2 linked regions of the Homo sapiens genome follow. The protein of the gene in region 1 interacts with the protein of each later gene in a pairwise test. Each region holds a gene or a part of one and is shown on either strand. Other genes may lie near its edges.

Region 1 (3,656 bases):
TTGAGATGAGCCTGGGCAACATAGCAAGACCCTTTCTCTATAAAAATTAAAAATAAAAAAGTTAGCTCTGCGAGGTTGAGGCTGCAGTGAGCCATGATTGTGCCACTGTGCTCCAGCCTGGATGACAGCGAGACTCTGGGATTTTTTTTTTGTTTTTTTTTTTGAGACGGAGTCTTGCTCTGTCACCCAGGCTGGAGTGCAGTGGCGCCATCTCGGCCCACTGCAAGCTCCGCCTCCCAGGTTCATGCCATTCTCCTGCCTCCGCCTCCCAAGTAGCTGGGACTACAGGTGCCCGCCACCACACCCGGCTAATTTTTTGTATTTTTAGTAGAGACGGGGTTTCACCTTGTTAGCCAGGATGGTCTTGATCTCCTGACCTTGTGATCCGCCCTCCCTGGCCTCCCAAGGTGCTGGGATTACGGGCATGAGCCACTGCGCCCGGCTGACTGGGAGGTTTGCTGGAGCCCAGGAGTTCAACATTGCTGAGCTATGATCATGCCATTGCACTCCAGCCTGGGCAACAGAGCAAGATCCTGTCTCAAGAAAATATATACTCTTTTTTAAAAAGGAGAAAGGAAAAGTATAAAACTGAGAAGCATTTGTTTTGTTTTGTTGAGACAGGGTCTCACTATGTTGCCCAGGTTGGAGTGCAGTGGCACAAAATCATAGCTCACTGCAGCCTCGCCCTCCTGTGCTCAAGTAATCCTCCCACCTCACCTCAGCCTCCCAAGTAGCTGTGACTACATGTGCATGCCACCATGCCTGGCTAATTTTTTATTTCTGAGATGAGGTCTCACTATGTTGCCACGCAGGTCTTGAACTCCTGGGCTCAAGTGATCCTCCCAACTCAGCCTCCCAAAGTACTGGTATTACAGACATGAGCCACAGCATTTGGCCTGCTTTTGTATTTTTGAGCAAAAAAAGTTGACGAGAGATTGGTTAAAAGCAAGGAGTGTTGCTGCAGAACTAGAAATCCATGGTCTCAAAGTGAGAGGATTGCTTAAGCCCAGGAATTCAACACCAGCATGGGTAACATAGTGAGACCCTGTCTCTCAAAACAAAAAAAGAAAAAGAAAACAAAAATTAGCTGGGCCTGGTGGTGCGTGGCTATAGTCCCAGCTATACAGGAGACTGAAGTAGGAGGATCACTTGAGCCCCGGAGGCTGAGGCCACAGTGAGCAGTGATTGTGCCACTGCACTCCAGCCTGGATGACAGTGAGACCCCCTGTCTCTAATAAAAATAGAAAGAAAGAAATCCGTGGGCTAGGCGTGGTGGCTCACGCCTGTAATCCCAGCACTTTGGGAGGCCGAGGTGGGCGGATCACGAGGTCAGGAGATCGAGACCATCCTCGCTAACACAGCGAAACCCCATCTCTGTGAAAAATACAAAAAATTAGCCAGGCGTGGTGGCAGGTGCCTGTAGTCCCAGCTACTCAGGAGGCTGAGGCAGGAGAATGGCGTGACCCCAGGAGGCGGAGCTTGCAGTGAGCCAAGATCGTGCCACTGCACTCCAGCCTGGGCGACAGAGCGAGACTCCGTCTCAAAAACAAACAAACAAAAAAAAAAAGAAATCTGTGATCTAACATTTAGCTTTATAGGGCCATATAGGGCATATTTTATTTTTTTCAACCAGCGCTAATCAGGCTGATAAATTGTACCAAGAGAACACTTTACAAACCAGCTAAGAATTTAGGCCGGGCGTGGTGGCTCACGCCTGTAATCCCAGCACTTTGGGAGACCGAGGCGGGCAGATCTTCTGAGGTCGGGAGTTTGATACCAGCCTGACCAACATGGAGAAAACCCGTCTCTACTAAAAATACAAAATGCGTAGTGGCGCATGCCTGTAATCCCAGCTACTCGGGAGGCTGAGGCAGGAGAATCGCTTGAGCCTGGGAAGTGGAGGTTGCGGTGAACCGAGATCGCACCATTGCACTCCAGCCTGGGCAACAAGAGTGAAACTCCGTCTCAAAAAAAAAAAAAAAAAAAAAAGAATTATTCATAATAGGAGCCAAAACTGGCTACAGAAGGGCCTGCTCTGCGATCTTTGCAGATGGTATTGTGGAACAGAATGTTAATGTGGTGCAGGGTATAGAGTTAGAGCAGAGATTGCCATTGATCTTGGAGGGTTTGATGGATCGTCTTTCCTTCCTAGGGAAGCACCAGGGCCCCTCTCGCCTGAACAGACACAGATATTTTGCTCAGCAGCTTGCTGACTGTATCTTGTGAGGGTGTGGTAGGCTGTCATTTGCAGTTGCAGTACTCACAGATCACATTACCTAAAGTCTGAGGCCATTTTACTGGTGGCCCAATTGCTGAAAGAACAAGTTTCCAGAGGCCAGTTGAGCAAACAGTGGAGACCGCAGGGGCTGGGTATTCCTTACATTATAAGGCTTTCCCCTGGGTGAACTCTTCAAAGCTGCTCTCAGTGTTTCTTATGGACAGCTATTAATCAACAATGCCTGGATTTTAGGCATCTCAGGAAGGTCCAGATCCCTGGAAGGAATCCATTTGAATGGATTTCTAGCCTCTTTACTTAGGGAAGGTAGAAGACTGGATCTGTATACCCTCGGTTTTATCCTGCCTCAAGTCCCAGTCCCTACTCTGGAAAGTGAAGATGAAGCTGGGTTCACAGCTCCGTCTTTGGAACCCTTGGAGCTAGATGTATTTTGGAATTCTAGCTTAAGAGAAGTCACGTGGGGTCTGGGGAAGCACCTTGTATTTAAATAGATTAATTCTGCACTAAGTAGGACAAAGAAAGATTATAAATGTCCTTACAGGTGAAAACAGCTCCAGCGTGAGTTTTGGCACCACACTGGTAGAAAACACTTGGTGTTCAGACCCTTTTGGACCTGGGGGAATTGCAGAGTAAGGAATCTTGCCCACCTGCCCTTATTGTCTGTGGTGAGGATGAAATGAGATCATTGCAGATAAATGTTCTTAGCACCCTGCAGGGAAAGCACTTGTTTGCTGTTGGCTGCTGCTGCTGTGGTCTTAAGAGATAAAATAGAGACACTGTCAACAAATAAGAGAACGCTTACCCAGGGGGAAGGCACTTCTGTAGGTTTTTGATGTAAACAAGCTGTTAAAGGCATAGGCTTTAATTTTCAGGTCATGAGTTGGCTCTGATGGGAAAGGCAAATACTGCCTCTTATGGTATCTGTCGTAATTTCAGTGCTGAGAGAAAATTATTCAAAAATATGTATTTCTGGCCGGGCGCAGTGGCTCACGCCTGTAATCCCAGCACTTTGGGAGGCCAAGGCGGGCGGATCACAAGGTTAGGAGATCGAGACCATCCTGGCTAACATGGTGAAACCCCATCTCTACTAAAAATACAAAAAAATCAGCCGGACATGGTGGCACGCGCCTGTAGTCCCAGCTACTCAGAAGGCTGAGGCAGGAGAATCGCTTGAACCCGGGAGGTGGAGGTTGCAGTGAGCCGAGATCGTGCCACTGCACTCCAACCTAGTGCGAGACTCCGTCTCAAAAAAATATATATGTATTTCTAACTGTAGAGTTGTTGTTTTTTCTTTTTTTAATGTAGTTTTAAAGCAAGTGTCAGGATTAGCATCAGTCATAGTCTGTAGGAGCACTGGTTTCTGATAGAGGTAGAAGTTTTCCTTACTTGGCACTAACTCATTTTATTTTATTTCATTTAT
Region 2 (2,945 bases), on another chromosome or scaffold:
AAGATTTCAATGGATAGAGGTATCTTTCACTTCAGCAATTGAATTAGCTAGCTATTGTATATGGTAACCTGATGCAACTTACTGATTGGTTCATAAGACATATTTAACACAAAATCAGCCTATGGGAAAATAGATTTCAGATATTAAAATTCCCTGTGGGTATCTGGATGGTACTATCCCTAGATAACAGCTGGGGACCTTATTTGCAGAAGAGGAGCCGGAAGACAAGCTGAGCTGATTTTCCTGTTTCTCCCTGAGCTTTGCTCTTCCAGGAGTCCCCCACCCCTCCTCCCAAAGAGGCTCTCTATTGAGATTGTTACTGCTATGAAAGCCATATGTTACAGGTTCATGTAGCCATTCTATGTTGAAGGCAAGCTTCCTTGCACAAAGCATTCCAGGAAGCCACTCTGATTTCTAGATCTTTATTTACAGGGTTTTTGTTTCATTTGCCAGTGATATAGTTCGAATTTTTTTAAAAAGGCTTGTAGTATATTATGACCCATTGAGATGCATTTGCTCTTCCAAAAAGCACGTGTACAGGTCTCTTCTGAGCACATCTGCTCCTCTTTATGCACACCAGGAAAAGATTAACTCAGCTGTTCTGTTTTCCAGATTTGACTGAAGAACGACTTGGAGACGGCAAGTCGGCAGACAATACAGAGGTCTTCAGTGACAAAGACACTGACCAGAGGAGTTCCCCAGATGTGGCAAAGAGTAAGGGCTGCTTCACCCCTGAGAGCCCTGAGATAGTGTCCGTGGAGGAAGGGGGATACGCTGTCCAGAAAAACGGAGGCAACCCCGAGAGCCGCCCTGACAGCCCCAAGTGTCACGCGGAGCAGAATCACCTCCTGATTGAGGGCCCCTCGGGGACTGTTTCTCTGCCCTTCAGCTTGAAAGCCAACAGACCGCCGCTTGAAGTGTTAAAAAAGATATTCCCCAACCAGAAGCCAACGGTGCTTGAGCTCATCCTCAAGGGCTGTGGCGGGGACCTGGTGAGCGCCGTGGAAGTCCTTCTGTCCAGCCGATCCTCAGTCACGGGAGCAGAGCGAACTTCCGCAGAACCTGAGAGTCTAGCGTTGCCCTCCAATGGGCACATCTTTGAACACACCTTGAGCTCCTACCCCATCTCGTCTTCCAAATGGTCTGTGGGATCAGCCTTTCGAGTCCCAGACACGTTGAGGTTTTCTGCCGACTCTAGCAACGTTGTCCCCAGTCCCTTGGCTGGGCCTCTGCAGCCCCCTTTCCCCCAGCCACCCCGGTACCCGCTGATGCTGAGGAATACTTTGGCGAGAAGCCAGTCGAGCCCCTTTTTGCCCAATGATGTCACCCTGTGGAACACCATGACGCTGCAGCAGCAGTATCAGCTGAGGTCCCAGTATGTCAGTCCTTTCCCCAGTAACTCTACCAGCGTCTTCAGAAGCTCGCCCGTCCTTCCTGCCCGCGCCACGGAAGACCCTCGGATTTCCATCCCTGATGATGGGTGTCCATTTGTGTCAAAGCAGTCCATTTACACCGAGGACGACTATGACGAGAGGTCTGACTCCTCAGACTCTAGAACACTCAACACATCATCTTAAAGTGGTGCTGGATGGGTGGTGGCCAGGTGACATTTTCTGTGCGTTTTGACCCTGAGGCATCTGAGGAGAGGCCACATCTTGTGTATGCCCTTTCCTTCTGTTTGACAAAGTGACTGTGCTTGATTCTATACATTAGCAATAAAAACATAACTTATTTAACTTCTTGCACTTCACTGGAAAATGCCAAATAGCTCTGTTCTGTGGCTTTAGTGCTGAATGTTTATTGTAAAAGAGAGTCTAATGTTAAGAATAGTCTTGGGAAGGCTGGGTCCGTGGAAGATTTATTTGGGGATGTAAAGCTGAAGGTCAGCCTTGCACCTAAACCCAACCTGGAATGTTAAATGAAATAATATACTTGAATGCAATTTTGTAAAAGTGGATTCCTCAGGATATGTGAAACCTAAAGGAAGTGGTTCTGTTGCAAATGGACTATAAACAGGGACATTATATTCTTACACTAAAAATCCTTGCATTTTAAAGAGAGATGCACTTAAGAATAGAGTGAACTGCTCATATGCTTATTTAAGCTTGGACAGTTTTCAGAGACAAACCCCATTAAGAATTACTCTTTTCACATGGCTGAATCGAAACATGTGTAATGTCAATGTAAAACCAATCACAGCTGTGAACTGCATGAAATGTATTGTGAAACGAACACAAGATTAAGCTTTGTCAGGTTAATGTAGCATGTTAAGGACTCTAGAAAAAAATAAACTAAGGAGACGAGCGTGGTTTATGTCATTTCTACTTGTGGAAAGAGGATCTCTAAAAATAGAAACTTGATGTAAAAATGACTTTTACTAACGCATGGGCCAGGAATCAAATTATCAGTTAAATGAGACATTCCTGAGAAATATGAATGGCAAAGTTTTAGGGTTGCATTCAGAAAGATAATTTGTTCAAAATGGAGTTAATTCTCTCCATCCATTCACTTATTCAACAGATACTTACTGAGTGCCTACTATGTGTAAGAGAATGTGCTTTCCATGTATTGTCCAAGTTACCTACCCGTGAGTCCTAGATAAGCAGATATTTTAGTGGAGAATCCCATTGAAAACAAAGTAAAAATGGAAAACTCCCAACAATGTATAGTTGAGTGTGGGAAGCAAGGAAAGTGCTTAGCCCAGTACCTGACATAGGAAGTATGCAGTCCATGAAAACTACTGCTTCTATTAATGAAATTCAGTAGCCTTGCATTCAGAATATAGACGTGCATTCCTTCATTCTTACTTGGAGACCATGCCATTCTGGTTTGAGGCAAAACATTGAAAACCAGGGCTTTTTTCTTTCGTTTTAAAAACATTCTTGAGGTGCTGTATATGACAAACTTCTTGCTCAGATTTTTTTTTTTAGAGAGAAGTTTCAAAC

What was found. The genes of interacting proteins can lie anywhere in the genome.
Region 2: the proteins of AKAP8L (region 1) and DMRT3 interact in binary tests that used the Homo sapiens proteins (3 or more experiments, as listed by UniProt).

What each region holds. Positions count from the first base shown.
Region 1 is NC_000019.10:15,412,393-15,416,048, reverse strand, and holds part of AKAP8L (A-kinase anchor protein 8-like), read left to right. Parts: intron 1-3,656. UniProt on the Homo sapiens protein: Could play a role in constitutive transport element (CTE)-mediated gene expression by association with DHX9. Increases CTE-dependent nuclear unspliced mRNA export.
Region 2 is NC_000009.12:989,429-992,373, forward strand, and holds the end of DMRT3 (doublesex- and mab-3-related transcription factor 3), read left to right. Parts: intron 1-612; coding exon 613-1,577; 3' UTR 1,578-2,304; downstream 2,305-2,945. UniProt on the Homo sapiens protein: Probable transcription factor that plays a role in configuring the spinal circuits controlling stride in vertebrates.